Regions from separate parts of the Homo sapiens genome. Here all the other regions are linked to region 2. Evidence: fine-mapped QTL for protein levels in blood plasma. A gene starts in region 2. Each other region holds a variant in brackets. All regions are shown on one strand. Distances are from middle to middle. Region 1 overlaps ARMC12 (armadillo repeat containing 12). Region 2 holds the start of CLPS (colipase). Region 3 overlaps CLPSL1 (colipase like 1). Region 4 overlaps LHFPL5 (LHFPL tetraspan subfamily member 5).

The links. PIP is the chance, under the fine-mapping model, that this variant and not a neighbour inherited with it causes the effect. Protein levels are from antibody-based Olink assays in UK Biobank. Linkage for the fine-mapping came from a reference panel and not from the study's own genotypes, which makes the PIPs less certain.
Region 1: its variant is fine-mapped to the plasma level of the CLPS protein (UK Biobank, PIP above 0.99).
Region 3: its variant is fine-mapped to the plasma level of the CLPS protein (UK Biobank, PIP above 0.99).
Region 4: its variant is fine-mapped to the plasma level of the CLPS protein (UK Biobank, PIP above 0.99).

What each region holds. Positions count from the first base shown.
Region 1 is chr6:35,742,389-35,750,527 of GRCh38, forward strand. ARMC12 (armadillo repeat containing 12) reads left to right here. Exons shown (of 6, transcript NM_001286574.2): 4 at 4,873-5,046; 5 at 5,188-5,259; 6 at 6,150-6,691. The coding sequence ends at 6,482. Among named protein-coding and RNA genes, the nearest start is that of ARMC12, 9.4 kb to the left of the region's middle. RefSeq lists a silencer at 5,085-5,284. The variant A/T (reference allele first, on the strand shown) is at 3,670.
Region 2 is chr6:35,793,755-35,801,867 of GRCh38, forward strand. CLPS (colipase) reads right to left here and starts at 3,569. Exons shown (of 3, transcript NM_001832.4): 1 at 3,451-3,569; 2 at 1,977-2,099; 3 at 1,228-1,523. The coding sequence starts at 3,534. The coding sequence ends at 1,392. It also overlaps a transcript of CLPSL1 not described here.
Region 3 is chr6:35,781,144-35,789,282 of GRCh38, forward strand. It overlaps CLPSL1 (colipase like 1), which reads left to right. Exons shown (of 3, transcript NM_001010886.5): 1 at 1-66; 2 at 5,855-5,977; 3 at 6,724-7,007. The coding sequence ends at 6,867. Among named protein-coding and RNA genes, the nearest start is that of CLPSL1, 4.2 kb to the left of the region's middle. RefSeq lists an enhancer at 987-1,488. The variant T/C (reference allele first, on the strand shown) is at 4,307.
Region 4 is chr6:35,807,179-35,815,178 of GRCh38, forward strand. LHFPL5 (LHFPL tetraspan subfamily member 5) reads left to right here. Exons shown (of 4, transcript NM_182548.4): 2 at 7,368-7,604. Among named protein-coding and RNA genes, the nearest start is that of LHFPL5, 5.8 kb to the left of the region's middle. The variant C/T (reference allele first, on the strand shown) is at 4,204.

The DNA.
Region 1 (8,139 bases), 51 kb before region 2:
GGGAGGCTGAGGCAGGAGAATCACTTGAACCCGGGAGGCAGAGGCTTGCAGTGAGCCAAGATCACGCCACTGCACTCCAGCCTGGGCCACAGAACGAGACTCTGTCTCAAAAAAAAAAAAAAAAAAAAAAAAGCCCAGGGAGTTCAGTTCAACAGGAGAACTTTGTTTTTCACAAATCCCCCAGGAAATTCTGATGCAGGCGGCCTGAGTCCCACTCTTCCTTTTTTTCCCCAGTGTCTTTATGCTGAGGGCCTGACCCCTGGTCTCTTTTCAGGTGAAAGTAGTTACTCCTTGATCTCAATTTCCATCTAGCTGTGCCCTTCTGGATCTCTGCAGCCTGTGGGCTCCCCTGCCTTCCCCATGGGCAGCTGCTACTAGGCATATCCACTTAGATGCCCTCCAAGTTCTCTAACCCAACATATCCAAAATGGAGCTCACCCCATTCCCTGAATCAGCCCACTCTCTCCAGAGGGCTCTTAGGCCATCAGGCCCTTTGGGTCTGCCTCAAGGCTCTCAGCATAAAGTGCGTGATTGGCCATGGGCTGCACCTCCTTGCCCTAACCCCAGCCACGTACAATGCATGCTTTATGCTCTCACATGCCCCCTTGCTGCTGTTCCCTCGTTCTGAAACCCTGTCCCAGACTTGCTGACTCCAACCTGTCCTGCGGGTCGCCACGGCTTTTGAGGGGTGGGGGAAGGGAAGGGCAGGTACTGATGGGAATGCTCACTTCCACTCCAGGACTCTTGCTTACTTCTTACATGGCTCATAAAGGTGCAGCTCGTGAGGTTACCTGTCTTTGGTAATGCCTCTAGGTCCAAGCATCTTACTTTTTTTTTTTTTTTTTGAGACGGAGTTTCGCTCTTGTTGCCAAGGCTGGAGTGCAATGGCGCGATCTCAGCTCACCGCAACCTCCGCCTCCCGGGTTCAAGTGATTCTCCTGCCTCAGCCTCCCGAGTAGCTGGGATTACAGGCATGTGCCACCACGTTCCGCTGATTTTTTGTTTTTGTAGTGGAGATGGGGTTTCTCCATGTTGGTCAGGCTGATCCTGAACTCCCAAGCTCAGGTGATCTGCCCACCTTGGCCTCCCAAAGTGCTGGGATTAAAGGCGTGAGCCACTGCGTCCTGCCCGCATCTTGCATCCTAGAACCGAAGATCCCTTTATTCACTCAATAAATGTAATATTGAACACTTTGTGCCAACACGCTGCTCTAAGTACAGGAGAGAAAGCAGTAAACAGAACAGGGAAGATCCCTGTGCTTGTGGAATTTATATTCTAACAGGGCAAGGCAAGCAATACACAAATAAGTAAAATATATAGTGTGTTTCATGTGGTAAGTGCCATGGAGAAAAATAAAAGGCGGGGGGTGGATAAAGGAGTCTGGGTGGGGGTGATGCAGTTTTCAAGAAGAAAATCTTGAACCCAGGAGGCCTGTAATCCTAGCTACTCAGGAGGCTGAGGAAGGAGAATCACTTGAACCCAGGAGGTGGAGGTTGCATTGAACCGAGATCACCACATTGCACTCCAGCCTGTTTGATGGGAGTGAGACTCCATCTCAAAAAAAAAAAAAGAAAAAAGAAAAAGAAAATCTTTTGAGATGTTGGGCTTGGTGAAGAGTTCATGACATCAAAAGCATGATCTATAAAAGGAAAATCAATACATTGGACTTTATTAAAATTAAAAACATTTGCTCCATGAAAGATCCTGTTAAGAGAATGAAAAAAGCTGCAGACTGGGAGAGTGTATTTGTTTTTGTTTTTGTTTTTGTTTTGAGATGGAGTCTTGCTCTGTCACCCAGGCTGGAGTTCAATGGCACAATCTCGGCTCACTGCAACTTCCGCCTCCCGGGTTCAAGCGATTCTCCTGCCTCACCCTCCCAAGTAGCTGGGATTACAGGTGTACACCACCATGCCCAGCTGATTTTTGTATTTTTAGTAGAGACGGGGTTTCACCATGTTGGCCAGGATGGTCTCGGTCTCTTGACCTCTTGATCCGCCCACCTCGACCTCCCAAAGTGCTGGGATTAGAGGCGTGAGCCACTGTGCCTGGCTGAGGGAGTATATTTGAAAATCACATATCTGATAAAGGACTCAGCTAAATTGTATCAAGTGCTTTCAAAACTGAATGTTAGGCCAGGCATGGGGGATCACGAGGTCAGGGGTTTGAGACCAGCCTGGGCAGCATGGTGAAACCCCATCTCTACTAAAAATACAAAAACTAGCTGGGCATGGTGGTGGGCACCTGTAATCCTAGCTACTCAGGGGACTGAGAAAGGAGAATCACTTGAACCTGGGAGGTGGAGGTTGCAGCGAGCCGAGATCGCACCACTGCACTCCAGCGTGGGCAACAGAGTGAGACTCTGTCTAAAAACAAAAACAACCCTGATGTTAAAACAAGCAGTCCAATTAGGAAATGGGCAAAATACATGAACAGATATTTCACTGAAGAGGATATATGGATGGCAAATAAGCACATGAAACCATGTTTAATATCACCAGCCATTAGGGAAATGCAATGAAGACCATGCTGAGATATTACTGTGCACCTATTAGAAGATCTAAAATCAAAATTAGTGACGATACCAAATGCTGGCAAAGATATAGAAAAACCGGATCTTTCATATATTGCTGGTGGGAATATAAAATGGTACAGCAGCCACTCTGGAAAATAGTTTGGCAATTTCTTTCAGAACTAAACATACATTTACCAATTCAGCAGTTGAACTCTTGGGCCTTTATCCTAGAGAAATGAAAACTTATATCTGCACAAAAACCAGTACACGATTGTCGATAGCAGTTTTATGTGGAATAGCCCCAAACTGGAAACAACCAAAAATGTCTGTCAATCGGTGAATGGTTAAACAAAATGGTATAGCCATTACCATGGAATGCTACTTAGTAATAAAAAGGAATATAATATTGATATGCACAACAACTTGGATGGTTCTCAAGGGCGTTATGCTGAGTGAAAAAAGCCGATCTCAAATGATCACATAAAGTGTGATTTCATTTATATAACATCCTCAAACTTAAAAGGTCATATATAGAGATGGAAAACACAAGTGGTTGCCTGGGCTTTGGGCTGGGGGAGCAGGTGGGAGTGAGTCTAAAGGGGTCTCTTGAGATAGATCTTTGTGGCAATGGGACAGTTCTGGTGGGATAATCTGTTGGCTGCAGTTGTGGTTACACAAATATGTGCATGTGCTGAAATGACATAGAACTATGCACACATATTACACCAACACCAATTTCCTAGTTTTGCTATTATACTATAATGCAAGATGTGACCATTGAGGGGAACTGGGTGAAGAGCACATGGGACCTCGCTGTACTATTTTTGCAACTTCCTGTAAATTTATAATCATTTCAAAATAAAGGCCGGGCGCGGAGGCTCAGGCCTGTAAACCCAGCACTTTGGGAGGCCGAAGTGGGCATATTACCTAAGGTCAGGAGTTCAAGACCAGCCTGGCCAACATGGCGAAAACCCGTCTCTACTAAAAATACAAAAATTAGTTGAGCACGGTGGCGTACACCTGTAATCCCAGCTACTTGGGAGGCTGAGGCAGGAGAATCGCTTGTACCTGGGAGGCAGAGGTTGCAGTGACCCAAGATCTCACCACTGCATTCCAGCCTGGGCAACAGAGTGAGACGGTCTCCAATAAAATAAAAT[A/T]AAATAAAATTAAATTAAAAAACAAAATTAAAGAAATGAAAATGTGTGTTACACGTGACAATGCTGTAGAGAAAAATAAAATAACAGTGGAGGGTGGTAAGGAAGGCTGGGATGGGGGTGGTTAGAGAAGGCCTTACTGAGAAGGTAACATTTTAATGAAGTCTTAAAGGAGGTGTGAGAGTGAGTTGTGAGTATCTGGGGATAGAGTGTGCTAAGCAGAGGGCACAGCCTATGCAAACACCCTAAGACAGGTGTGTACCTGGCATGTTCATGGAATATGTAAGAGGCCATTGTGATGGGAACCTTGGTCATGAGGGAGAGAAGAGAAGATGGAGTCCAAGACATAATAGGGAGAGAGGGGCAGATCACATTGGACCGTATGCCACTGTAAGGACTTTAGCTTTTACACTGAATGAAATGGGGGCTCTTGAGCAGAGGAGTGACATGTCTAACATGTCAGCTGCTCTGAAAGTAGATGCAGGGGGTGAGAATGGAAGCAGGGAGACAGGAGGCTATTGCAGAAATCCCGGTGAGATGCCAGTGGCTTGAAAGAGGGTGGTAAGAAGTGGGGGTGAGGAGAAGTGGCTTGAATTTTGATAGATTTTTGAAGGTAGTGCCTACAGGATTTTCTGAAGGGTTGGAAAAGGAGTGTGAGAGAAAGAAAGGAGTTGATGCCAGCAGTTTTTGGCCCGAGCCACTGGAAGGAAAGTGTAACCCATAGCTGAGACAGGGAAAGCTATAGAAGGAGCAGGTCTGGGGATGGGGGAGCGTGTTAACTCTGAGAGCTCTATTAGACATTTGGGGAGAAAAGTGGAATTGGTAGCTGCATATATGAGTCTGGATTCAGGGGAGGGACAACATAGCTGGAGCTAGAGACATAAAGGGGAGAGTCACCAGCATGTGGATCGTATTTAACACTGTGAGTCTGGATGATACCGGTATGGGAGTGAGGTAGGTAGAAAAGAGGAGGTTGGGCAGAATAGCTAGGAAAGAAGTCTGTAAAAAAAAAAAAAAAAAAGCCAAATAAAGAATTTCAAGGCAGTGGGAGTGGGCAACTGGGTCAAATTATGTTGAGAGTTAGGGAGAATTGTCTATTGGGTTTGGCCCAGGGGACATCCATGGGGACAGTGAAGAGTAAAGTCAGATACTGGGATAGTGGTGATCACCTGTAAAAGTAAGCCCTTTTGTTCTCCCCCACTCCAGGAACACTCCATCAAAGTACTCGAACTGATCTCCACCATCTGGGACACGGAACTGCACATTGCGGGCCTCAGACTCCTCAACAACCTTCCACTGCCCGACTATGTGCATCCACAGCTGCGACGGGTGATGCCTGCCTTGATGGAGATCCTGCAGTCAGACTACATCCTGGCACAGGTGCCTGAGGACCATGGCCAAGGCCCTGCCTTGCTGACCAGCCCTAGCACAGTACTTAGAGGGAGGAGCAGAGGTTTATATCTTCCTTGCTGAGGCCCAGACTCACCTGCCTTCTCATGCTTTACTCTTTCCTTTATTCAGGTGCAAGCCGTACGACTGCTGAGCTACCTGGCACAGAAGAATGACCTTCTCTATGACATTCTCAACTGCCAGGTGAGAAAGAAATTGAAGAGGGGCTGATGAATGCCAACTCAGGTATAGGGGGAGGGAAGAATCATGGCATCTCCAGACAGATTTACCCCTGATGAATTGTTTTAGTATCTTCCTGCCTCTGCACTAAATGCACTGAAAATCATGCCTCTTCTGTTCCCCCCAGTAGAAGGAGACTCCATTTTATTGGGAGGGGGATCCCCCTTTGAGGCATTTCCTGAACTCTGAGAGTTAGGAACACAGGAGACAAAACAAAAGTTAATGTAGGTATTTTAATATTGGGGGGAAATTACTATGGCAAAGAGCATTATTAGGGATAGAAAAGGTTACTCTGTGATAATCAGTGGTTCAGTTCACCAGAACAGTAGGGCAACTCTAAACTTGTATGCACCTAATAACATAGTCTCAAAATATATACGACAAAAATTGAAAGGAGAAATTAACAAATATACCACTACAGTGGGAGATTTGGAATATTTTAACCATTCTTGCAGCAACTGATAGATTAAAAAGCCAAAATTAGTGAGGATATACTCTTAGTGAATAACACAAATAAGCTTGAGCCATTAGACATACTCAGAACAGTCTACAAGGATTAAATGCACAGTCCTCTCAAGCACACACACAATACTTAAGAAAATTAGTCACACACTAAGCCTTAAAATTTGTCTCAACAAAATTTCCAGAATGAATATTATCATATCACTCATGTTTTATGATCACAAGGCAATTAAATTAGAGGATAATAATAAAAGAAAAACTAAAAAATTACTATATACTCGAGTCTGAAATTTAGGTATATTTGGGAGTTTAGGCAATAGGAATATACAAGAACAAGAATTTTGTAACTTGCCTAGGAGTTTATTCCCATTCTTTCTCTATTCCCATCACAGGTTCACTCCAACTTCCTAAACCTGTTCCAGCCCACACAGTCAGGGAGTCTCCTGTATGAGGTACTGGTGTTTGCTGAGCGGCTGAGTGAGGGCCGGAACGCACCCCACTACCACGTGGTGAAATGGCATTACAACGAACAGTCCCTGCATGAATCCCTCTTTGGGGAAGAGTCCCGACTGGCAGACCGACTACTTGCCCTGGTCATCCACCCTGAGGAAGATGTTCAGATCCAGGCCTGCAAGGTCATTGTCAGCCTGCAGTATCCCCAGGACTTGAGAGCCCGGCCCTCCTCCTGCCAGCCCAGTCGTTCCTACTTTAAAAACACGGAATAAAATTAAGGAGAGCCAATAAATGAGTATAGGAGAGAAACTTGAAGTTTCTTGAAGCTCGAATGTCTGTTGGTGGCCTTCCAGGGCTGGGTGGAGATTTCATTCAGCATAACCTCTGCTCCAGAGTGTGGTACAGCATGGGCTTATCTCTCAAAACACATCCCCACTTCTATGTTTGGGGGACTAGCTCCCCTCTTCTCTTGCTGCTTTTCTTTCTTTTTTTTTTTTTGAGATGGAGTCTTGCTCTGTTGCCTAGGCTGGAGTGCAATGGCACAATCTTGGCTCACTGCAACCTGCGCCTCCCTGGTTCACGCCATTCTCTTGCCTCAGCCTCCCGAGTAGCTGGGACTACAGGCGCCCGCCACCACGCCCAGCTAATTTTTGTATTTTTAGTAGAGGTGGGGTTCGGCATGTTGGCCAGGCTGGCTCTTGCTGCTTTTCAAATCAATGTGGAGCCATTGCTTTCAGGGGGTTGGAAGAAGGCAGGCTTGGGGATTGAAGCCAAAGATAATCAACAGGACGCAGTATAGCATTAGATTAGTTAGGATGGGCCAGGCTATCCCACAGTAACAACACTCACACCTCAGTGGCTTAAACATGGCAAAGGGGGCCAGGCGCGGTGGCTCACGCCTGTAATCCTAGCACTTTGGGAGGCCGAGGCGGGCAGATCACGAGGTCAGGAGATCGAGACCATCCTGGCTAAAACGGTGAAATCCCGTCTCTACTAAAAATACAAAAAATTAGCCGGGCGTGGTAGCAGGCGCCTGTAGTCCCAGCTACTCAGGAGGCTGAGGCAGGAGAATGGCGTGAACCCAGGAGGCGGAGCTTGCAGTGAACCGAGATTGCGCCACTGCACTCCAGCCTGGGCGACAAAGCGAGACTCCGTCTCAAGAAAAAAAAAACATGGCAAATGTTAATTCTTGTTTACACTGCATGCCCATTGCAGATCAGCGGTGGGGGTGGAAGGGCAGGCCTCTACTCCACAACATCCTCACACAGAGACCCAGGTTGAGGGAGGCTTCCTCATTGTGTTTCTACAACTATTACAGAAGGACAGGGAATGTGGTAGTGATAAATGTCATCACTTCTGCTCACATCTCATTAGCCAAAGGGGATGAGGAAGATCATTCTTTCCACGTGTCCAAGGAAGAACTGTTGATCCTTGGTGACAGCATGAATGACAGAGATCTGCAGGCATACTGGGTCAGAAAGGGAGCTCTGGAATCAGAGTGCTCGCTTCCAGTCCCAGCTCTGTCACTTACTGTGTGACCTCAGGGGAGCAGTTAACCCTATTTGAGCTTCAGGCCCCTCATCTATAAAATGCATATAATAATAGTACTGATTTCATGACGCTGTTGGGAAAATGAAAGGGGGATTATATGAGTTAACGAACGTAAGCCACAGTGTTCTGCATGCATTCCTCAAAGATGGGCTCTGAGGAGCTATGAAATCATCACTGAGAAAGCCGGGCAGAGTGGCTCACGCCTGTAATCCCAGCACTTTGGGAGGCTGAGGCGGGAGGATCACCCGAGGTCGGGAGTTCGAGACCAGCCTGACCAACACGGAGAAACCCCGTCTCTACTAAAAATACAAAACTAGCCAGATGTGGTGGCGGGCACCTGTAATCCCAGCTACTTGGGAAGCTGAGGCAGGAGAATTG
Region 2 (8,113 bases):
ACAGAACTGCAAGATCCTGGGGCTGGGACGACATCGAAGTTTCATTCAGTTCACTGTCCCTCACTCTCTGTGGGAATCTCCTCTCTAGCATCTCCACCGAGGGGTCAGTGAGCTTCCACCTGCGTACCTGGATGATGGGCACCTCAGTACTGCCTAAGGTAACTCATGTTTGATGGCTCCAGGGGATATACAATTTTTATATTAAGGCAAAATTAAATTCCTTGCAGTTTCCACCCATTTTTCTTAATGCGAATAATTGGGAAAGAAAAAGGAATCATAAGGCCGGGCACGGTGGCTCATACCTGTAATCCCAGCACTTTGGGAGGCTGAGGTGGTGGATCACCTGGGGTCAGGAGTTTGAGACCAGCCTGGCCAACACGATGAAACCCCGTCTCTACTAAAAACACAAAAATTAGCCGGGCGTGGTGGTAGGCGCCTGTAATCCCAGCTACTAGGGGAGGCTGGGGCAGGAGAATCGCTTGAACCTGGGAGGTGGAGGTTGCAGTGAGCCAAGAGATCACTCCGCTGCACTCCAGTCTGGGCAACAGAGAGAGACTCTGTTTCAGAAAAAAAAAAAAAAAGGAATCATAGAAGCAGGGCAGTGGAGTTAGATGGTAGAGTGCCAACATTTTCTGATTATGTGACATTGGGCAAGCTCCTCTCTGAAACTTGGTCTCTATCTATAAAGTGGAGATGAGAAATTCTCCCTCCTGGGATCCTTGTGAGCATTTGCTGGCAGAGAGTAAGCTCATAGCAATTGAGAGTGGTCTGACCCCTTAACACATGAGTTGTGTCAGCTAGCTGTCATATTTGAGAATTGTGTCCAGAAAAGAGGTGAGAGCCCAGGATTCTGATGCCTCTGATGCAGGGTGACGAACATGGGCCATTAAAACTCCTTACCCACAAGTGTGTGTGTGTGTGTGTGTGTGTGTGTGTGTGTATGTGCGCGCGCATGCACATGTGCCCGCTTGTCTCTTTGAGAACCGGAGGGACAAGGAGGGCATCCCAGGTAGGTGTGACTTCTCCCCAGAAATGGAGGGTTTCCTAGGCTGGCTGGGTCTCCTTCACAGCTTTGTCTTCAGTCTCCAATCTGTTTGGCCACAACTTCTTCAGCCCCAGACCCATCCCTTGTTCTTCTGACCTGCCTGAAGCCTGCCCTGGTGGACCAAAGGCCTGATGCAACTTCAGAGAAGATGCTGAGTCAGAAAGAATATGCAGGAGACTGGGAAAGGTTTGCAGGAGGCCTTTAATTGTGAAGAGCGCAATCAGAAAACAGATATGCTGGTCAAGGAGGTGGCCAGCCCGGGAGATGCGCTGGAGCAGGGGAGAGATGCCCCTGCGCCTAGTGGCCTACAGCATTCTGGGCTAGGTGTGGGAGTGGGTGGGCAGTCTCACTGCTTGGAGCGTCCAGCGTCATGGCAGATGCCAAAGTTGGTGTTGGTGATGGAGCCCACGATGGTCTTGTCTCCCTCACAGGTCAGGCCACGCTCACAGGGACACTTGTAGTAAATCCCATAGAGCGTCTGCAGAGACACAGCCAATGGAGTCAAGGCTATGGGGAGATACTTTGGACATCACTTGTCCCCTGCCTGACCTAGAGAACCAGTAGGCCAGCCTGTGTTTTCGGGGAGTGCCTCTCCCACCTGCCTCCCCAGGGGTGCCGTGGGCCCTGGAGACCCCAGCTCTGACCTCTGCTCTGGCTCATTTGCTCTTACTAGCTTGATCTCTCTGGGGAGCCTCTATTTACCCAGCCATGAAATGGGGATAACAAATCCCCACCCCCACCCATCTCACTGGTCACTCGGGAGGGTCAAGAGAGATGATGGGATGGGAAAGTGCTTTGACACCTGTCGACCTCCCTCTCGTCTCCTCAACATTCAGTGTCCAGGCTGACCCCCCTCCCTGATCCCACTCACAAGTGTTCAGGGCCCTACTCCCCATTCTCCCCCACCCACGCCAAGTCCTCAGGCACCCACCTTGACAGAGCACTCGCTGTTCTCGCTGGCCATGGATGTGCAGCGGGCCAGGCCCAGCGCACTTGAATGCTGGCAGCAATTGCTCTTACACTGGGCACTATTCATGCAGAGCTCACCGTTCTCCTGCCAGGAGCAGCCAGTCAGCCCAGGCCCCACTCCCTCAGGTCCCTTCTCCATTCAGACCTGTACCCACCACACACTACCACTAACAGTGTCTCCCCTGGTAGGGATGTGTGTGAAGGAGTCCATCCCCTGGGTCTGGTGGCCTCTGTGCCCCCCACCCACGTGAGAAGTGGGCATGCGGTGACAGAGAAGCAGACTTGCACAGAGGGTCAGGACCCCTGGGTTCTAGTACCGGCTGTGCTACCAACCTCCTGTGTGACTCTGGGCAAGTCACTGCCTCCCAAGCCTCAGTGTTCCCATTTGGAATGTGCACACAAGGCCCCTAGACAAGTTCTCCAAACCACTCTGGGTCCCACACCTCTTTAAGGAGGCGGTGAAGATTGCATCTCCCTGCAAGACTCCTTCCTCCCCCAACAGATCTGATCTATAATCTCCAAGGGTCCTGGACCTCCAAGTCCAGCCATGGCCCCAAGTTAAGAGAGTTCAGAACCTTTCAACCGCATGGACGTTCTGGAAGGGCTTTCCCAGCCAAGACCCATGGTGGAGAGGTGGTGTGGGGCAGTGGTGGGGCCCCAGCTGAACCACTTTCCAGCTATGTGACCTCAGGCAGGTTGCTCACCCTCTCTCTGTCTGAAGACAGGGCTGACTCTGAAAACACCTCCCTCAGTGGTTATTATGAGAACAGAATGAGTAAACATCTCCGAGGCATCTCCATAAGTCAGAAGCTGGAATGATTGGCGCAAAGCATTTTCTCAGGATGGAAGCCCAGGGCTCTGGATTTTTACAAAGCTCCCTCGTAGGGCCAGGTGAGGTGGCTCATGCCTGTAATCCCAGCACTTTGGGAGGCCGAGGTGGGCGGATCACGAGGTCAGGAGTTTGAGACTAGCCTGGGCAACATGGTGAAACCCTATTTCTACTAAAAATACAAAAAATAGCTGAGCGTTATGGCAGGCACCTGTAATCCCAGCTTCTTGGGAGGCTGAGGCAGGAGAATCATTTGAACCCGGGAAGCAGAGATTGCAGTGAGCCGAGATTGTGCCACTACACTCCAGCCTGGTGACAGAGCAAGACTCCGTTTCAAAAAGAAAAAAAAGAAAAAAAAGGTCCCTCATAGCCAGGTTGAGCTGCTGCTCTGAGCATGCTCCAGTTGGAGCTGGAGAGGGGCTGATCAGCCTTTCCTGTGGCCTCTGGGAAGAGGCATAGGACAGGACATGGAAGTAAACAGAGGGATGCAAGATGCCACTCCTCCCAGCCCCTGCCAGTCCAGGTGGAGACATCAGAGGTCAAGGTCCAAGCTTAGGAAGTCTTCATCTGGGGACTCAGGAGGCGCCTCCCCTGAAGACCCTCTTACCAGGTTGATAATGATCCCCCGGGGGCCAGGAGCTGCATAGGCCACAGAGAGGGCGACAAGCAGGAGGATCAGGATCTTCTCCATGGTGAGTGGGACAGCTGGTGTGGGTGGCGGGAGACAGAGCCAGCTGTGGTGATGGGGCTATAAAAGGGGCCCTGACCTCACGAGATCCACCTGCATCCCACAGGGCTGGCCGTGGGCAGAGGCACAGCTGTGGCCAATCTGCTGTGGGGCGGTTCCTGATAAGGAAACTGGGTGAGTACCTGGTGGCCTTTTTCGTGTGTGTGTGTGTGTGTGTGTGTGTGTGTGTGTGTGTGTTGGTGATAATTGTGTTGCATCGTGGTTAAGAGTATGGACTGTGTACAAGTTATTAGTGAGGCAAACTTACTATCTGTTCCAACTATTCTGCCTTTCATCTTATCTGTCAACTAAGGATAATTTAAAGAGTTGTGAGGGTTGAATTAATACACATTTATGTGTTACATATATATAAACATTATTATATACAATTATAAGAATATATTTATATTGTATATTCCCATATGCCACATAAGCAGTGGGTAAGGGTGGCTGCCCTTGTGTCTTGAGCTCCTGGGCAGTGCCTGGACGAATCCAAGGCAAGAGAGGCACCTATGGTGTGAGTGCCTGCTTACATTCTGTGTACTTGGGGCCTCTCTGCCTCACTATAGTCAGGCCTTGCCTTTGGCCCACCCAAGCCCAGGTGTCTAGCAGTGTCAGACTCCAGGGACGAGGATCCTAGCCTCCCACCCCTCAACCTTCCTTCAGTCTCCTCGGGGGATTCCAGGCCATGCCCAGATCCCTGGGGCTGACAGTTCTGCAACCCCCAGCAGGCCAGGGTGTGTGTGCTTTCACTTTGGCACCCTCCCCCTGCCCTCACACCAGGGGCTGCCTGCAGGCCTGACTCAAGGGCCCTTAGGAGGCCCTTCCTAAATGCCTCTCTCCCCTTTCCTTTCTACCTCACTTACTATCTGCAATTCCAGCATCAGATACTCACCCCTTTAGTTAAGGTTTCCACTCACGCTGCCCCCTACCCAAGGCCACGTGCGCGCGTGAGCAGTCGCTAGTCCTGGCTGAGAATGAAGAGGTCTCATGAGCCTCAGATGGAGCAGGGGCCTCAGGAAGCTGGGAAGGGCACAGCTGCCTGAGTTTGCTCAGGCATGGGAACAGAGCAGCTTTTCCTGAAGGACTAGTCATGGCAGCCAGAGGCCCCTGCCCTTCCCCTCTCCATCCCAGGAGGTAGAAGACAGCTCCACTGAGAGGCCCAGGCCTCAAGCACAGCTTTTAATTTAATTTAATTTAATTTTTTGAGACAAGGTCTCACTCTGTCACCTAGGCCGAAGTGCAGTTGTGCCATCTTGGCTCACTGCAGCCTCCACCTCCTGAGATCAAGCAATCTTCCCCCTAAGCCTCCCAGGTCTAAAACTCGTGGGCTCAAGCAATCTTCCCACCTCGGCCTCCTAAAGTGTTGGGATTACAGGTGTGAGCCACTGTGCCCAGCCTCAAGCACAGCTTTGATCCAGACCAAGCTGGCTTCAAAATTCAGCATTTACTGGAGCTACGTGGCCTCAGACACATTATTGAAAGTGAAGCTCCCTGAACCTCACTTTCCTTATTTATCTTAGGGGGATAACGCCTCCTACTTCCTGAGGTCATGATTAAGACAATGCACGTGGAACACCTTCGGAAGTGCCTGGCACATGGTGGGTGCCCAGCCATGTAATATGACCCCCTTCCTCTCACCTTTACATCCCTGGGGTGTGGAATGTAGAGAAATAGCTGGAGGAACAACCAGGAGACTCTCAAAATGAGAAAAACCAATTTGGTTCCAGCGATGCAGAAATACCATTGATGAAAGAACACTATCCCCCCTCTCTTTTATAGAACTCAATGTTTGAAAGCACTTTTTCCTATGAGTTCACTCTGATCCTTCCTTCTCTTTTCTCTACCTGCTCCCCACCCCCAGGACCTCTGTGAGGTGAGCCACAGAGAAGGGAATCACTATTCCCTTCTCACAAGTCAAGATGGAGACTGGCAAAGGAATCAGAGGAGTGATTTCTCTCCATGAAGGGAGCTGTGAAAACCATCAGCCCTGTCCCTAGTTGGTCTCAGCCAAGCTTGCAAAGAAAAAAGGCTGGAGTTTTTTCCATTACAAATGAAGTGTAGCAAAGAGAACTTTGACACTGTATGTGCTTCTAAAAGGAAAGCAAAAATTAAGTACCTGTCAATGAAAAGAGTCAAACTCTGTACAATATTTGAATAGATTTATTCTGAGCCAAATATGAGCAACCATGGCCTGTGACACAGCCCTCAGGATGTAACCACTGAAGGGGTTCACCTTGCCCACTACCTAGATAGAGCCGATTCATCAAGACAGGGGAATTGCAGTGGAGAAAGAGTATTTCATGCAGAGCCGGCTGTGCAGGTGCAGGAGACTAGAGTTTTAGAGTTGTTGTTGCTGTTGAGACAGAGTTTCGCTCTTGTTGCCCAGGTTGGAGTGCAATGGCATGATCTTGGCTCACTGCAACCTCCGCCTCCTGGGTTCAAGTGATTCTCCTGCCTCGGCCTCTCGAGTAGCTGGGATTACAGGCATGTGCCACCATGCTCGGCTAATTTTGTATTTTTAGTAGATATGGGGTTTCACCATGTTGGTCAGGCTGGTCTTGAACTCCTGACCTCAAGTGATCCACCTGCCTCAGTCTCCCAAAGTGCTGGGATTACAGGCATGAGCTACCATGCCCAGCAGGGAGCAGAGTTTTTGAAGATAACTTGGTGGGTGGGGGGAAGCCAGTGAGCCAGGGGTGATGATTGGTCAGAGATGAAATCATAGGGACTCAGAGCTGTCTTCGTGCACCCAGTCAATTACTGGGTGAGGGCCACAAGATCAGATGAGCCAGTTTATTGATCTGGGTGGGGCCAGCTGATCCATCAAGTGCAGGGTCAGCAAAATATCTCAAGCACTGATCTTAGGAGTAGTTTAGGGAGGATCAGGATCTTGTAGCCTCCAGCTGCGTGACTCCTAAACCATAATTTCTAATCTTGTGGCTAATGTTAGTCCTACAAAGGCAATCTAGTCCCCAGGCAAGAATGAAGTCAGCTTTGGGAAAGGGCTGTTACTGTCTTTGTTTAAACTATAAACTAAGTTTCTCCCAAAGTTAGTTCAGCTTACGCCTAGGAATGAACAAGGACAGCTTGGAGGTTAGAAACAAGATGGAGTCACTTAAGTTAGATCTCTTTCACTGTCTCAGTCATAATTTTGCAAAGGTGGTTTCAGAATGAGGAGAAAACAAAGAAAATGACCCCCTTTTGAGCACTCCGTAGCTTTTATGGCACCTCTACCTGACAAAGTTTATGTAAAATGGAAATAACGTGGTCTTTGTGCACATTTACATTAAGGAAAAAGAGCCCTAAGGTTGACCTGCAAACTATAGAATTCCTAAGTCATCTTTTTCTCTATTTTTCTTTTCTGCCTGCTCTAAATCTTCCTTCCTTCCTTCCTTCCCTCCTTCCTTCCTTCCTTCCTCCCTCCCTTCCTTTCGATGGAGTCTCACTCTGTTGCCCAGCCTGGAGTGCAATGGCACAATCTCATCTCACTGCAACTTCTGCCTCCCGGGTTCAAGTCATTCTCCTGCCTCAGCCTCCTGAGTAGCTGGGATTATAGGTGCCTGCCACCACACCCAGCTAATTTTTTGTATTTTTAGTAGAGATGGGGTTTCACCATGTTGGCCAGTCTGGTCTGGAACTCCTGACCTCGTGATCCGCCCACTTTGGCCTCCCACAGTGCTGGGATTACAGGCGTGAGCCACCGCGCCCGGCAATCTGCTGTTATTTTTCTATTAAGAGAAAAACCACTGTTTAGATCCAACAAGTTCTTTTTGCAAGCCAGGTGAATTTGTATTTATTTCATGGCTAAAAGTTCTGAAGTAAAAGCTACAAGGTGTGTGTGTGTGTGTGTGTGTTTAAAAGGCCTTTATAATTTCCATACTTTTATGTTTAATTGGCAATTAAATCTGTTTTAATTTCCCTCTAGAACACCAGACTTTTCTTGGCGCACCTTATAATGTAAATTTTGCTGTTTGACTTTCATCTGAACTGTTTCCTTTAATATGCAAATTTAAGGCTATTTAGCTGTCAACTGCCTAGGGTTGTGAAAGAGGTTATCAAGAATTTGATAACTCTTGAGGTCAGGTGTTTGAGACCTTCCTGGCCAACCTGGTGAAACCCCGTCTCTACTAAAAATAGAAAAATTAACTGAGGATGGTGGCAGGCACCTGTAATCCCAGCTACTCGGGAGGCTGAAGCAGAAGAATTGTTTCAATTTGGGAGGCAGAGGTTGCAGTGAGCCAAGATTGCACCACTGCACTCCGGCCTAGGTGACAGAGCGAGACTCCATCTCAAAAACAAACAAAAAGAATCTGAAAGATTAAAATAGGAAAAAAAAAGGTTTTTATAAATCTGTAAGATGTACTTCTATAGGCATGCCTGATATGTCTATGTATTTATGGGTGGTGTGCACAGTGTTTCACTACTGAAAATAAATAAAAGAGCTCTAATTGGCTTAAGAAAATAAAAGCACTTGAACACTTTATCAGGAAAAAAGACTAGTCAAATGCTGTTTCAAGTTTATGTAATGTAAGTAAAATCT
Region 3 (8,139 bases), 13 kb before region 2:
CTTCTCTTCTTCTTTCTCTTCCTCCTCACCAGGGGCTCACTTTCTCCAACAAAATACAACCTTTTGGTAAGAAAGCTGGAGAGTGCAGTCACCTCCCCCTCCACTGTCCTAAGGCCTGTACTATTTGGGGAGGTGAGCGGGCATGGGGGCTAGTGTGGGAGAAGGCCAGAAGTGGGGGCAGCAGGGAGTGTTGGGTGGAAGATGTCTCGGAGGAAAGAGAGAACAACCTGGTCCTGGAAGCTGTGCCAGGGCAGTGCCAGGTGCTGCTGCCACAGAGGTGAATGTGAGAGAGCCCCCCTGCCCATGCGCACATGTGGTAAGGGAGACAGATATTCACTCATGCAACACATTTTTATTGAGCACCTACTATATGTAAATTATTTTTCTACATTTAGTGATAGGGCTGTGAGCAAGAAAGATAAAAATCCTTGCCCTTGTAGAGCTGTCACTCTAGTGTGTGAGGCAAAGAAGTAAAACATTACAATAGATGCTATTAATAATAGCATCTATCTCAGGTGATAAGCAAGGAAAGGGAAAATAAGAATCGAGCTGTGGGAGTGGTGGTGTGAGAAGGGTTTGCAGGTGTTTTTTTTTTTTTTCTTTTTCTTTTTCTTTTTTTTGGGACAGAGTCTTGCTTTGTCACCCAGGCTGGAGTGCAGTGGGGCAATCTCGGCTCACTGCAAACTTAGCCTCCTGAGTTCAAGCGATTCCCCTGCCTCAGCCTCCCGAGTAGCTGAGATTACAGGCACCCACTGCCACGCCCAGCTAATTTTTTTTTCTGTATTTTTAGTAGAGACAGGGTTTCACCGTATTGGTCAGGCTGGTCTTGAACTCCTGACCTCAAGCAATCCACCCGCCTTGGCCTCCCAAAGTGCTAGGATTACAGGCGTAAGCCACCGCACCTGGCCAGGGTTTGCAGTTTTAAATGGGGTGCTCAGGGAAGAGTTTACTAAGAATGTGAAATTTTAGCAAAGACCTAAAGGGAGGGAAGTCCTTCCTAACCGGCAAAGCAGGGGGGTCTCTGGGAGAAGAGCATTCAAGGTGGAGGGAACAGCCAGGGCAAAGGTCTGGGGGCGGAAATGTGCTGGCATATTCAAGGAATAGCAAAGAGGAGTAAGAGAGAGTGGAAATCATGGGAGATGAGCTCAGAGAGATAAATGGAACACAGTTACAATATTCTCATTTATTCAACAGTTATGCATTCAGCACCTGCAATGTGTAAGGACTTTAGTCCAAGGGGGCTAAGAAATATAGCAGTGAACGTGAGAGCAGAAGATCCATGTCCCAGAGCTGAGGTTGCTAGCGGGGGAAATAAATTATTTTTAAACATATAAATAAGATGATTTCAGAGAGTCATAAGTGTTGTGAACAAAGTACAACCAGGTGATGGGGACTGCTCTGCTGGTGTCCAGGAAGTCTTCAGCCTGAGGCAGGAGGGGGAGGCAGCCGGGCAAAGAGTGCAGGACAGGGTGCTCTGGGCAGAGGGCCAGCAAGCGCAAATGCCCTGGGGCCAGGCCAGGTGTGGATTCAGAGCCCCAGTGATGGCTTTGAATCCAGAGAATGGCATTGTGGGAATTATCTTTTAAAAAAGACTCCTCTAGCTATTCTGGGAAGAACTGACTTGAGGAGGTTGGGGAGGTGGAAGTGAGAGTGGGGATGGTGAGGGGGTACCTGGGGGAGGTCACTGGCAAGGATGGAAGCAGGGAGGCCGGGAGGCGGCTATAGCCAATCCTCCTTTCCTGCCTTATTTTCTTTATAGCACATAATCGTACATAATAGGATTATACATATATAATATAAATATTACTTATTGTTATGTATATAACATATGTGGTAAAAATCACACCTTACTAGGTGCTCAGATCTTGAGTTTACATGGAAATCAATGGATTCGAACCTATGCAGACCCCCTCATCACTACCGTCAGAACAAGATATAGGACATTTTCATTACCCCAAAAGCCTCACTCTTACTCTCCTAGTCAATAGCACCAAAGGCAACTGTCTCCTGACTTCCATTATTATAGATTAGTTTTGAACTTTGTATGATGAAATCACACAGTATGTACTTTTAAAAAAAAATTTGGGCCAGGCGCAGTGGCTCACGCCTGTAATCCTAACACTTTGGAAGGCCGAGGCAAGTGGATCACCTGACGTCAAGAGTTCGAGAACAGCCTGACCAACATGGTGAAAGCCCATCTCTACTAAAAATACAAAATTAGCTGGGTGTGGTGGCACATGCCTATAATCCCAGCTACTTGGGAGGCTGAGGCAGGAGAATTGCTTGAACCCGGGAGGCAGAGGTTGAACTAAGCCAAGAAAGTGCCATTGCACTCCAGCCTGGGCAGTAGAGTGAGACTTTGTCTCAAAAAAAAAAAGGGGGGCTGGGCGCGGTGGCTCATGCCTGTAATCCCAGCATTTTGGGAGGCCGAGGCAGGCAGATCACGAGGTCAGGAGATCAAGACCATCCTGGCTAACACAGTGAAACCCTGTCTCTACTAAAAATACAAAAAAAATTAGCTGTGCGTGGTGGCGGGTGCCTGTAATCCCAGCTACTCAGGAGGCTGAGGCAGGAGAATGGCGTGAACCTGGGAGGCACAGCTTGCAGTGAGCCGAGATCGCACCACTGCATTCCAGCCTGGGCGACGGCGAGACTCTATCTCCAAAAAAAAAAAAAAAAAAAAATCTGACTTATTTTGCTCAACGTTTTTTCTGTGATACCGTATCATTTCACTTATGTATCTCTTCCCTGTCTTCCCTCTCTAGAGCTGTGTGTGTCCAATAGTGCAGTTACTAGTGTGAACCCAAAATATCTGAGACAGGTCTCAGTCAATTTAGAAAGTTTATTTTGCCAAGGTTAGGGACACACCTGTGATACAGCCTCAGGTGGCTGGGGTGCACCTTGCTTTTTTTTTGTTTTTTGTTTTTTGGGGTATAGCTTGCTTTTATACACATTGGGGAGACATAATATGTCAGTCAGTACCTGTAAGATTTACATTCGTTTGATCTGGAAGGGTGGGACAACTTGAAGTGGGGGGCATGACTTCCATTCCAGGTCATAGGTAGATTTAAACAAATTCTGATTGGCAGTTGGTTGAACAGCTATTATCAGCAGAAGGGAATGTCTGGGTTAAGATAAGGGGTTGAGGAGAGCAAGGTTTTATCATGCAGATGAAGCCTCCAGTAATAGGCTTCATAGAAAATAGATTGTACATGTTTCTGATCAGACTTAAGGTCTTTGTTAATGTTAATGCTGGAGGGGTATTAATGAGGCATGTCCAACCCCCACTTCCCGTCATGGCCTGAACCAGTCTTTCAGGTTAAATTTTAGAGTGCCCTGGCCAAGGAAGGAGTCGACTGAGATGGCTGTGGATTGGTGGTGGTGGGAGGCTTCAAATTTTATTTTTGGTTTACACTAGCCACATATAGTTACTTAGATTTACATTGATTAAAATTCAACAAAATTTAAAATTCAAGCCAGGTGTGGTGGTTCATGGCTGTAATCCCAACATTTTGGGAGGCCAAGGTGGGAGGATTGTCTGAGCCCAGAGGTTCGAGACCAACCTGGGCAACAAAGCAAGACTCCTGTCTCTTACTGGTGGAAGGTATCTGAGTTATTGGCAATGAATCTGTATGCATTTACAGCAACCTCAATTCTTGCCTCCTCAGAAGAAAGAATTCAACTGAGGGGCATAAAGCAGAAAAAGAGACTGAGGCAGGTTTCAGAGCAGGAGTGGAAGTTTATTAAAAAGCTTTAGAGCAGGAAAGAATGGAAAGTACACTTGGAAGAGTCCCAAGTGGGCAACTTGAAGGGCAAGTGCAGTGTTTAACCTTGGTCCTACCCCTTAACAGTCTTGCCTACCTCCAGTGTCGTGTGCCTCTCTCCCCTGATTCTTCCCTTAGGGTGAGCTGACCACATGCGCAGTGTCCTCCTTACCCTTGGGAAGTGAGCACATGCAGGGTGTTTAGGAAGTTGTACGCATGCCCATCTGAGGCTTTGTTCCCTTTTCCTGTGGAGTGTGCCCCTGGAAATTTTTTTTTTTTTTTTTTTTTGAGACAGAGTCTCGCTTTGTCACCCAGGCTGGAGTGCAGTGGTGCAATCTCAGCTAACTGCAAGCTCCACCTCCCGGGTTCACGCCATTCTCCTGCCTCAGCCTCCCAAGTAGCTGGGACTACAGGCACCCGCCACCACGCCCAGCTAATTTTTTGTATTTTTAGTAGAGACGGGGTTTCACCGTGTTAGCCAGGATGGTCTCGATCTCCTGACCTCGTGATCTGCCCGCCTCGGCCTCCCAAAGTGCTGGGAT[T/C]ACAGGCGTGAGCCACCATGCCTGGCCCTGTCCCCGGAAATTCATACTCCTCCATTTTTTCTCTTAATGTGCATTCCCCGGGCTCACTCACCCAACACCTGAGATTTTATTGGAAGCCCTTTTTGCTTCTCTCTGGCCCCTGCTTTCAATGGACACTTTAATGTTAACAGCTGTGGACCATTAGAAGCCTGTCTCTCCCTGGAGCCTAACTGCCAAATTATCATTTTTAGAGAGGCAATGTGATAACTGTTGAACCATCACCTGACATTCCTGGTGGGTGGGGGAGAGCCCTCTCCTACCCCACTCATGCCTGTCTAACTACCTGTAACATCTCTACAAAAAATAAAAAAATTAGCTGGGCATGGTGGTGTGTGCCTGTGGTCCCAGCTACACGGGAGGCTGAGCCAGGAGGATTGCTTGAACCTAGAGGTTGAGGCTACAGTGAGCTATAATTGCACCACTGCACTCCAGCCTGGGTGACAGAGTGAGACTTTGTCAAAAAAAAAAAAAAAAAAAGGAAAGGAAAGAAAGAGGGTTGGGCGCGGTGGCTCATGCCTGTAATCCTAGCACTTTGGGAGGCCGAGGCGGGTGGATCACCTGAGGTCAGAAGTTCGAGACCAGCCTGGCCAGCATGGCGAAACCCCGTCTCTACTAAAAATACAAAAATTAGCCAGGCATGGTGGCGCACGGCTGTAATCGCAGCTACTCGGGAGAATTGCTTGAACCCAGGAGGTGGATGTTGCAGTGAGCCGAAATCACGCCACTGCATACCAGCCTGCGCGATGGAAGCAAGACTCCATCTCAAAAAAAAGAAGAAAAGAAAATTTAAATTCAGCTCCTCAGTTGCACTACCACATTTCAAGTGCTCAGTAGTGGCTAGTGGCTATTGGACTGGGCAGAAAAAGCACATTTTCGTCACTGCAGAAGCTCTGTTGGACAGTGCTGCTCTGGAATGTCAGCTGCAGGTGGACAGGGATTTCTGTTTTTGTTGTTCCCAGCTGTATTCCCAGTGCCTGGAACAGTGCCTGGCACACAGTAGGTGCTCAGTATTTGCCTGTTGAATGACTATTGAAATTGTCAGAGATGATGGGTGGCTGTGATCAATAATGTTAATTACTGTCCTAAGCCCCAGTGCTGGGTGGAGGTCATTGATGTGTGTAGGGGGAGGGGCGGTGGGAATGCATGTAGGTGACCATCAGGCACAGGTGAAAGGGTGAGTATGAGTTTTGGGGCGAGAAGGCTCTGCAGCAGAATGAAGTGCAAGAGAGAGACAGGAAAGTCTAGACCACTCTGGTGTGTATGAGAAGCAGCCTATGTTGAGGACACCAAGAGTAAACCTTTTAAAAACTGTTCAGTCCCCTCCAGGCATCCACCGTCTGCACAGACTTACCCCGGCCCCCACGTAGAGACCACCCTGCCTGGCAGGAGCCAGAGGTGATGGTGGGAGCAGAGTCTGGGGAGGAGCCCCGTAGGGAGAAAGCCCCAGGCGGGGCGGCGAGGGCGGAAGGCGGGCGGTGGAGCCTGGCGGTGCCGTGTCCCTCCCTGCAGGAGCTCAAGGAGTCTTGCATCCGGAACCAGGACTGCGAGACTGGCTGCTGCCAACGTGCTCCAGACAATTGCGAGTCGCACTGCGCGGAGAAGGGGTCCGAGGGCAGTCTGTGTCAAACGCAGGTGGGTATCGCCGCCCGGGGGGAGCCAGAGGGGATCCAGGGGAAGTGGGAGCCAGGGCGGGCCCAGATTCCTGGGGAGGAAAGAAGGGTAGGTGGGCGGAAATGCCCTGGAGCCTGGAATTCCCCCGTGGGACTGCACCTCCAAGCCTTCTGGGGGAGCCTGTGGACGGAACCAATATGGTAGCCCACCCTAGGGTTTTGGAATCCTGGATTGGGGCGGGAAGGCGATGTTTCACTTTCTAATGTGGGTTCACATTCTCCAGGAGTCTTCTCAGCAAATTCCGAAAGTAGTACAGTAAATGGGCACAGCTAGGTCCAGCCTCTGCCCCAGAGCCCCGTCTTCATCCAGCTCAGGAGTTCTGCTGTGGCCCCGGGTGTTCCTGGTGGAGGATGGGCAGAGGCAGCCTCTGAGCTGGGTGTGTAGGGGAGGGAGTTGATTTGCCCATGGAAGGATTTAAAGACAAGACATAGAGGTCCTGCGATGGTGTGTCCATGGACTTAGGACAGGCAGATGGGTCAGTGACAGGCAGGGTTACAAGGTCTGGAGCTGGGAGGACACTGAACAATCCAGGAGCCAGCCTGGAGAAGGCAGCCAGAGGTGCCACTCTGAGCAGCTGGCAAGCTATCATTTATCCCTGGATCCTGGCTGTGGGCAAGCACATGGGCCCTGGAGCTGGGCTGGGCTGGGCTTAGGGGCTCAGGGAAGAGCTGCCGCCAAGGTCGAGGTCAAAGTCCTGTCTTTCCCAGGTGTTCTTTGGCCAATATAGAGCGTGTCCCTGCCTGCGGAACCTGACTTGTATATATTCAAAGAATGAGAAATGGCTTAGCATCGCCTATGGCCGTTGTCAGAAAATTGGAAGGCAGAAGTTGGCTAAGAAAATGTTCTTCTAGTGCTCCCTCCTTCTTGCTGCCTCCTCCTCCTCCACCTGCTCTCCTCCCTACCCAGAGCTCTGTGTTCACCCTGTTCCCCAGAGCCTCCACCATGAGTGGAGGGAAGTGGGGAGTGATTGAAATAAAGAGCTTTTTCAATGTTTGCTGCCCACAGAGTTGGGGCCTGGGTGGGCTGGGCTGGGGTGGGCATGGTACAGGTTTCTGGGGGGTGGGGAGGTGATATGAGGGAGGAAGCAGGAAGGGACACTGTTGGACTTGGGGTCTTTCCCCAGTTGGGGCATGAATGAAAGTCCCCCAGAAGAGACCAAAGCTCCCTTCCCACCCCAACCCCTTTCTGCCTTCAGCCCACTCTGTAATCTACCCCCCGGAAGCCCAGTTTACACCTGATATTCCAGTTCCACGACCTTAAATTTCAGAAATGTGAAAGAAGGTACACAAAATATCCATGTGTATAAAGAATTGAGGATGTTTATTGAGCACTTACTAGATGTTAGGGGCCGCTCTAGCTGCCTTATGCACATGATCTCATTTAATCCTGCAACAAACCTGTGGGGTCTCTCCTGTTATCACCTCTGTTTTACAGGTAGGGAAACGGGTTGAGCAACTTGTTCAAGGTCACACAGTTGGAAAGTGCTGAATCTGAATCTTCTGGGAGGCAAGAGAAAAGAGGGACAAGAAAAGAAGGAAGGAAGGAAGGAAGGAGAGCCTAGGAAAGAGTGAGAAAGAAAGACTGGAGCAGCGACTGTGGTGTGGGGTTGGAGAGAGAATGAGTCAAGTGGAGTTTTAGGAAGTCTCAGTGTGTGGTGAGGCTTTTGGAGTTAGATGCTAGCTCGCTTGTCTGTGAGTAGTGCCTGTTATATTCAGGTTACATTTTGGAGTTAATTATTTCAGATTTTGGACCTAAATTTCCACATTCAGCCACCAGAACTGAGCCAAACATGCCCTCCAGGATGTTGGGCTTAGGATGCAAGGGCTGGGGAGTTTGGAGGTAAACTATGGTTGTACTTAGAACGCCCCCTTGTAAGTCATAGCAAAACGATGTGAACCATACCTTGGTAGAATATGCTGTCCTGTACTAAATGTATCAGACAGATAACCAGACTTCCATTGTGTTATGTGAGCTCTCCCCATTCAGAGAAAACCTATGAAATGACCGTGGAAGGAGAGGTGGCAGGCTGGAAACCCAATGATACCCAATGTCTAAGAAGTTCCCAAGGATACCCAATGTCAAGAAGTTAGAAGGGGAAGGGGAGAATACAGAGCCCAGAAATA
Region 4 (8,000 bases), 13 kb after region 2:
ATCCCAGCACTTTGGGAGAGAGCATCACTTGAGCTCAGGAGTTTGAGACTAGACTGGGCAAGATGGAAAGACCCTGTCTCTAAAAATAATAATAATAATAATAAATAAAATAAAACAAATAAAACTGTGGGGTAGGCAGCTACTTGTGCCTTGAGGCAAAACCTCCCTGGTCCTTTTTCCTGCTTCTAGCTCAGGAAGGCTTCTTGGTCCTTGTGCCAAGTGGTCTTGCTCTTCTCTGTAGCCCAGGAAGAGGGTTAAGACCTTGTGCTGCAGCCTCTGGTACCTTGGTCCCTGCACACCTCAGGGGCCACAAACTGTCCATGTCGGTGAGATGTCCAGGAGTAGTGCCGGGGACTGGAAACTAGAGTGAAACCATCTCATTGGTCAGAATGAGAAGTGCTGTCATCTTTAAGAGGGAGACTGAAACAGGCATCTGAATCCCAGACCACCAAACATGCAGATTCAAGACTGCAGAGTTGGAGGGGACCCCAGAGAGCTATATCCACCCCCCAACTATAGATGAGGAATCTGCTGCTGAGAGAAAGGACCAGACTTGGCCAAGGCTGTAGCAGATCAGCAGGCACCTGAGGACCAGGAAGAATTAAGCGGGCAACTGAGGACCAAGGAACTAGATGTATTCCTAAGATGTTTTTACTGAGCCACATATTTACATAAGTATAATGATCTATGAAATATCTTTACATATAATATCTGGAGGAGCCCCAGCACAACCCATTGAGGTGGGTATTTATCTATTTTACAAAGAAGGCCCCTAGTGGGTAACTTGTCTTTGAGCATACAAGTAGGAAGGCATGCACCTTTGATTCCAAATCTTGCACCCAGGCTACTCACATGGCTTCAGAGTTCCCAGCAAATCCCCTTGCCACCTCCCTGTTCTCTGTAGTCTCTCTGTATGATAAGAGAGAGGCCGGGGCAGGGGTGGGCAGTGGGGAGCAAGGTAGGTGGTGGCCATGTCAAGAATGATGGTGGGGGCAGGCACAGCGGCTCATGCCTGTAGTCCTAGCACTTTGGGAGGCCAAGGAGAGGGGATTGCTTGAGGCCAGAAGTTCAAGACTTCAAGACCAGCCTGGACAACATAGTGAGACCCTATCTCTATTTTATATATATATATATATAAATTAAAAATAATCATAATAAATAATATATATAAATAAAAATAATAATAAGGCCAGCTGCAGTGGCTCAGGCCTGTAATCCCAGCACTTTGGGAGGGCGAGGTGGGCAGATTGCTTGAGCTCAGGAGTTCGAGACCAGCCTGAGCAACATGGCGAAACTGTGTCTCTACAAAAAATACAAAAATTAGCTGGGTTAATAAAAATATTGAGTATATATATATATATTCTTTACTATATATTCATTTTATACATATATATATATATATATATATATATATATATATATATATATGAACAAAGGGAAAATGAAGATTTAGTAGTTTTATGCCAAAGAGGAGTGAAATAGACCCTAATATGCTTGCCAGCTCTTCTTCCCTATCAGGGTTATGGGATGCTGGAGACACAACCATCTCTCTCATTCTCAGGGCTGTCTGCAAACCCCCCTTCCCTGAAACATCCCCCAACAGGTGCCATGTGTGAGCAGGCAGTGCCAGGAGGGGGAGGGGTTGACAGGCCATCTGAGTCAGACACTATCTGGGTAGAAAAGCTGGAGACACTGATAGCAGAGGTGGCCAGGTGCCATCTCATGCAACATTTATGTTAGGGAAGGCAAGACTGGTGTCATGTTCCATTCTGCTGTGCTGCGGAAGGGGAAATGAGCCGAAGGGAGAGATGCAGAGTGGGCGGGTCCCATATCCAGCAGCTGGGAGATACATCTATTCATTAGTACCCTTGCCAAGAAGCCTGGGAACAGGGAGGGGGCAGGGGCAAGGAGGACTGATGCTTGGGCGATGTGGGGCTGCAGCTTAACAAGATTAATTGGGCTTCTGGGTGCCAGGTGTAGGCTGGGAGTTGTCCCAGCTCCTAGAAACACAGGTAGACCAAACTGCTTGTCTTCTCTGAGTCTTGGTAACCTCATGTCTTAGTCAGTTTTACTTAGTTCTATTTAGTCAGGGCTGCCATAACAAATTACCATAGATTAGGGGGCTTAAAACAACAGAAATTCATTTCTCACAGTTCTGGAGCCTGGAGGTCTGAGATCTGGGTGCCGGCATGGCATTAGCACGAGATCTCTGATGAAGGCCTCTTCTAGGCTCTAGACTGCTGACTTCTTGATGTCCTCACATGGTGAAAAGAGGATGACAGGGCTCTCTGAGGTCCCTTTTATGTATTTATTTGCATTGATGATTATTATTATTGAGTCAAGGTCTCAAAAATGATTATTTTTACCCAGGCTGGAGTACAATGGCATGAACACACCTCATTGCAGCCTTGACCTCCCAGGCTCAAGTGATCCTCCCTCCTCAGCCTCCCGAGTAGCTGGGACTACAGGTGCATGCCAGCACACCCAGCCAATTTTTGTATTTTTTGTAGAGATGGGGTTTCACCATGTTGCTCAGGCTGGTCTGGAACTCCTGAGCTCAGGCGATCTGCCTGCCTCAGCCTCCCAAAGTGCTGGGATTACAGGCGTGAGCCACCGCACCCGGCCTTATTATTGTTTTTAATTGACATAATAATTGTACATATTTATGGGCTACAGTGTGATATTTCGATACATGTATACAAGCTGGGCTTGAAATCCAGGCAGCCTGATCTAATGTTTCCTAGCTTTTCCTACTGAGAAAATGAAGGTAATTAGCATATCCATCACCTCAAACACTTAAAACATTTCTTTGAGTTGGGACGATTTCAAATTTGCTGTTCCAGCTATTTGAAAATATACGATAGATTGCTGTTGGTTATACTCACTCTACAGTGCTAAAGAACACTAGAGCTTACTCCTCCTGTCTAGCTATACTTTTGTATCCATTAACCAACCTTTAGCTGCCCCCGCTCCCCTCTGGGGTCCCTTTTATAAGGGTTCCAATCCCATTCGTGGAGGGCCCTACCCTCATGACCTAATCACCTCCCAAAGGCCCCACCTCCTAACACCATCACACTGGAGGTTAGGATTTCAACACAGGAAATCTGGGAGGAACAAACATTCCACTGTACCCCATCTGTAGAACATAGCAGCAGTACCCACTTCAGGGGGGTTCTGTGAAGATGGGATAATAGAATGCATGTAAAACACCTTGCACATGGTAAGTGCTCAGTACCTGTGAAAAACACAAAAAACAGGCTGGGCATGGTGGCTCAAGCCTGTAATCCCAGCATTTTGGGAGGCCGAGGTGGGTGGATCATGATGTCAGGAGATCGAGACCATCCTGGCTAACACAGTGACACCCCGTGTTACAAAAAAATACAAAAAAATTAGACAGGTGACATAATCCAGGATGCAACTGGGAAAGTCCCAGGCACAGCTGCCCTGTGGGCAGGGGATAATCCCCCCAAAAAATACAAAAAAATACAAAAATAAAAAATTAGCTGGGCTTGGTGGCGGGCGCCTGTAGTCCCAGCTACTTGGGAGGCTGAGGCAGGAGAATGGCGTGAACCCAGGAGGCAGAGCTTGCAGTGAGCCAAGATCGCGCCACTGCACTCCAGCCTGGGCGACAGAGTGAGACTCCGTCTCAAAAAAAAAAAAAAAAAAGAAAGAAAAGAAAAACACAAGAAACAACTATATCAGTGAGCATGAGAAGTGATGCCGTAGTAACAAACCACTCCCAAATCTTGGTGGCTTAGAACAACGGTTTATGTATTTCTTGCTTATGGTCCGTGCCAACCGGGGATCGGTGGGGGCTCCGCTCTCACTGTTGTCTCCTGGGACCCTCGCTAGTGGCATCAGTCACCATCAGCTGTCCTCGCATCAGAGGGAAGGGAACTCTGGGAGGTCTCCCACTGCAGCTAAGTGCTGTGGCCCGGAAATACACACATCTCTGCTCACATGTCATTGGCCAGAGGAAGGCAGATGGCCTCACTTAACCTCAAGAGAGCGGAGCAAGGAAGTACAACCTTGCCTTGCACCTGGAATATTCGTGAGCAGCTCTAATGGCATCCATGTCACTGAGGTGGCTTCTGTCTGACTCCAATGTCAATAATAATAGCAGTGACTAACATTAATTGGCCACTTTCCATGTACAAGACATCATAGTAAGCGTTTTCTGTAAATGATCACACTTAATCCTCA[C/T]AGTGCTGCTATGAGTCAGATACTTTACAGACAACAGGACGGAAGTCAGAGAGGGTAAGTAACCTGGCCTGAGAACACTGTGCTGGCTTCTGCTTAGAGCCTTGAGATGCCACAACTGGGGCTGACACCCACTGTCCCCAGAACCGTGGGTGGATGGGTAGAGTGCTCGCAGGGGACTGTGGCACCAACACCCTGTTTCCAGGTCAGAGGCCCTGGGCTTTTTTCCGGAGCCCCCACAGGAAGATGGTGCAGGAGGGGAGGGGCCACGGGAGGAAGTGATGGAGAGAATGCAAAGCCTGGAAGGGCAGCTCCTTCCCACCTTCACCTCTGCCCATGAAGCCAGGGGCCCTGCCAGGCACTGGAGGGCTGGACTCACATCAAGTCGGGGAAGGGCTGGCTACGTAGGTTTCACCACGGAGCTGTGGATGGCTCCCTCTCCTCCACCGTGGGTATCTTCCTGAACACTTAGTTTTCACTGAACACGTAGGAAGTCTGAAATGTCACCGCTAATTACATTCAGCCCCTGGGAGAGATGTCATGTTCTGGGGGTGGAGGGAATAAACTTTGAAGTCAGGAAAGTCAGGAATGGAGAACTCAGGCCTTGGCCCTGTCATAGCTGGATGACTGGATGGCTGGTAAGTCACTTGGTTTCTTTGAGCCCTCAGTTTTCTAATCTGTAAAATGAGGATATTAATAGCCAGCCCACTTCACAGAAAGGTGATCACAGTCAAGATGGTACATGAAGTATTTTGTGATCTATAAAGAACTATCTAAATAAGCTTCTCCTAAAAAAGATCAAAGGAAGCGTGATACATTTAGGTGGGGAGGTGGGACCCTGATTTTTCCATTTACTGTGCATTTGTTTGACCTCCTGACCTTCTTTGTAGAACAAGCTGGAAGCAGGGAAGGTAACTTTAGGCCTGAAGAGGTGCTTTTCTGAGGGTCTCCTGAGTAGGGTACAACCTTGGGACTAGAGAGCCTCCAGACCTGTGGGAAAGTGGCACAGATAAGGGGAGCACCCCCTGCCCGTGGGGCAGCTGTGCCTGGGGCTGGCTGCCCCAGTTGCATCCTGGATTATGTCACCTGTCTCTGCTTCACCCCAGCAAAGCTAAGGTGAGGGGATGGTTTGATGGAAAGGGATGGAAGAAGTGGGGGGAAAGTGGGGGCAACAGAATTTTTAGCTGTAAATAATAAGTCAAGTAAGGCACAGGGTGTGATAATAACTCTCACAGTCAACTCTTATGGAGTGCCAAGTCTGTGCCAGGCACTGTTCTACACTCTTTTCCAGTATTAACTCATTTGAACCTTGCTGTAACCACAACAGGAAGGTTAGGGTTATTATTATGTCCATTTTGTAGATGAGGAAACTGAGGCAAACAAAGCTTAAGTATGGCTGGGCACGGTGGCTCACGCCTGTAATCCCAGCACTTTGGGAGGCCAAGGCCGGCGGATCACTTGAACCCAGGAGTTCAAGACCAACCTGGCCAACGTGGCAAAACCCCGTCTCTATGAAAAATACAAAAATTAGCCGGGCATGGTGGTACATGCCTGTAATCCCAGCTACTCAGGAGGGTGAGGCAGGAGAATCACTTGAATCCGGGAGGCGGGTGTTGCAGTGAGCCGAGATCGTGCCACTGCACTCCAGCCTGGGCGACAGAGCAAGACTCTGTCTCAAAAAAAAAGAAAAGAAAGCTTAAGTTGCTTGCTCTGAGTCACATAGCTAGGTAGCAGAGAACTGGGTTTGAAATCCAGGCAGCCTAGTCTAGTGTTTCCCAGCTTTTCCTACTGAGAAAATCACCTGGAAGAGTGCTTTTGAAAACAGGGATTATTGAACCCAACCATGACCTAGGAACTAGCATTTTTTTTTTTTTTTTTTTTTTTTGAGATGGAGTCTTGGTCTGTTGCCCAGGCTGGAGTGCAGGGGCGCCATCTCGGCTCACTGTAGCTCCGCCTCCCAGGTTCACACCATTCTCCTGCCTCAGCCTCCCGAGTAGCTGGGACTACAGGCGCCCACCATCATGCCCGGCTAATTTTTGTATTTTTAGGAGAGACGGGGTTTCACCGTGTTAGCCAGGATGGTCTCGATCTCCTGACTTTGTAATCCGTCCACCTCGACCTCCCAAAGTCCTGGGATTACAGGCGTGAGCCACCGCACCCGGCCTCCAGGGGATTCTTAAATTTAGGGACGTGTAGCAACTGGACTATGCTGTACTGGGTAAGAGTGAGGAGGAAACCTGTTTGCTTGAATGGAAGGCTTTTGAAGGAAGCAGCCAGGGACAGTCTGGAAAGCCTTCCTGTATACATTAAATCTAAGATACCTGAGTTGTAGGACACACTGTTATTCTATGTACCATAAAAACAAAATATACTGATAATCTGGCCATGGCCTGACACTTTCTTTTTCCTTTTCCTTTTTTTTTTTTTTTTTTTTTGAGACGGAGTTTCGCTCTTGTTGCTCAGGCTGGAGTGCAATGGTGTGATCTCAGCTCACCGCAACCTCTGCCTGCAGGGTTCAAGCTACTCTCCTGCCTCAGCCTCCCCAGTAGCTGGGATCACAGGCATGTACCACCACTCCCTGCTAATTTTGTATTTTTAGTAGAGAACAGGGTTTCTCCATGTTGGTCAGGCTGGTCTCAAACTCCCAACCTCAGGTGATCTGCCCGCCTCGACCTCCCAAAGTGCTGGGATTACAGGTGTGAGCCACCACCCCCAGGCTAGACACTTTCTTATTGAGCTTATTTCACAGATGTTGTAAGTACGAAGAAATGTACATCTCAGCAGTGATGAGTTCTTTGGGCTGGGACTAGATACCGGAGGGCTTTGAAGCCAGGGTAGGTGGTGCCTGGTTGAGTCCAAGGTGAGGAGAATGGCTGAAGGCCTGGGAGGACCACCTGGTGTGGTGGCAGAGCCGGCCTGGGCTTAGGAGCTCAGCTCTGCCTCCGCCCCAACTACTGGGTCTCGGGGGCCAGTTGCTTTAACTCTCAGAGCCTCAGTTTTCTCACCTGTGTTCTGCAAGAAGGATGGTAGAGGCTGCCTCTCATGCCTCCTGAGGCTGTTAACAGAAGGAGAAGGGAGGTGACAACATAACAGCAGTGCAAGGTGTGGGAGGTAGCGGGCTAGGCACACTCGGCCTGATGCCATGTGCACCCCTCCTTCCCCCTCAGCCACAGGCCTAATGATTGGCTGCCTGGTCTACCCTGATGGTTGGGACTCAAGTGAGGTGCGGCGCATGTGTGGGGAGCAGACGGGCAAGTACACGCTGGGCCACTGCACCATCCGCTGGGCCTTCATGCTGGCCATCCTCAGCATTGGCGACGCCCTCATCCTCTCCTTCCTGGCCTTCGTGTTGGGCTACCGGCAGGACAAGCTCCTCCCTGACGACTACAAGGCAGATGGAACCGGTAATCACCCAACTCCACAATGGTGTCCCCTGCCTGGAGACCCTGGGATGTGGGTGGGGGTTCATCTTAGCCAGTCCTCTAAGGCTTGGTCCCTGGCCAAGGGATGGGGACACCAAGACTAATCAGACACACCCCTTGTCCTCCCTGAAATCAAAGGCCAGTGGAGGGTTGCAAGCTAGCAGGTGATAAGGCGATCTGTGATAAAGGAATGTCCCCCTCACCCCTCTACACTCTCAGAGGCTATAGGGGAGAGAGCTGCAATCCAGCCTTGGGGGCTAAGTGTGGTCTCCCCTAGAAGGAGGCACTGAGGCGGGGTCTCGAAGTAATATTCCTGGAAGTTTGTTGGTGGAGATGGGGAACAACAGCAGATGAGTTGCTGGGGAGGGAGTGCGACCT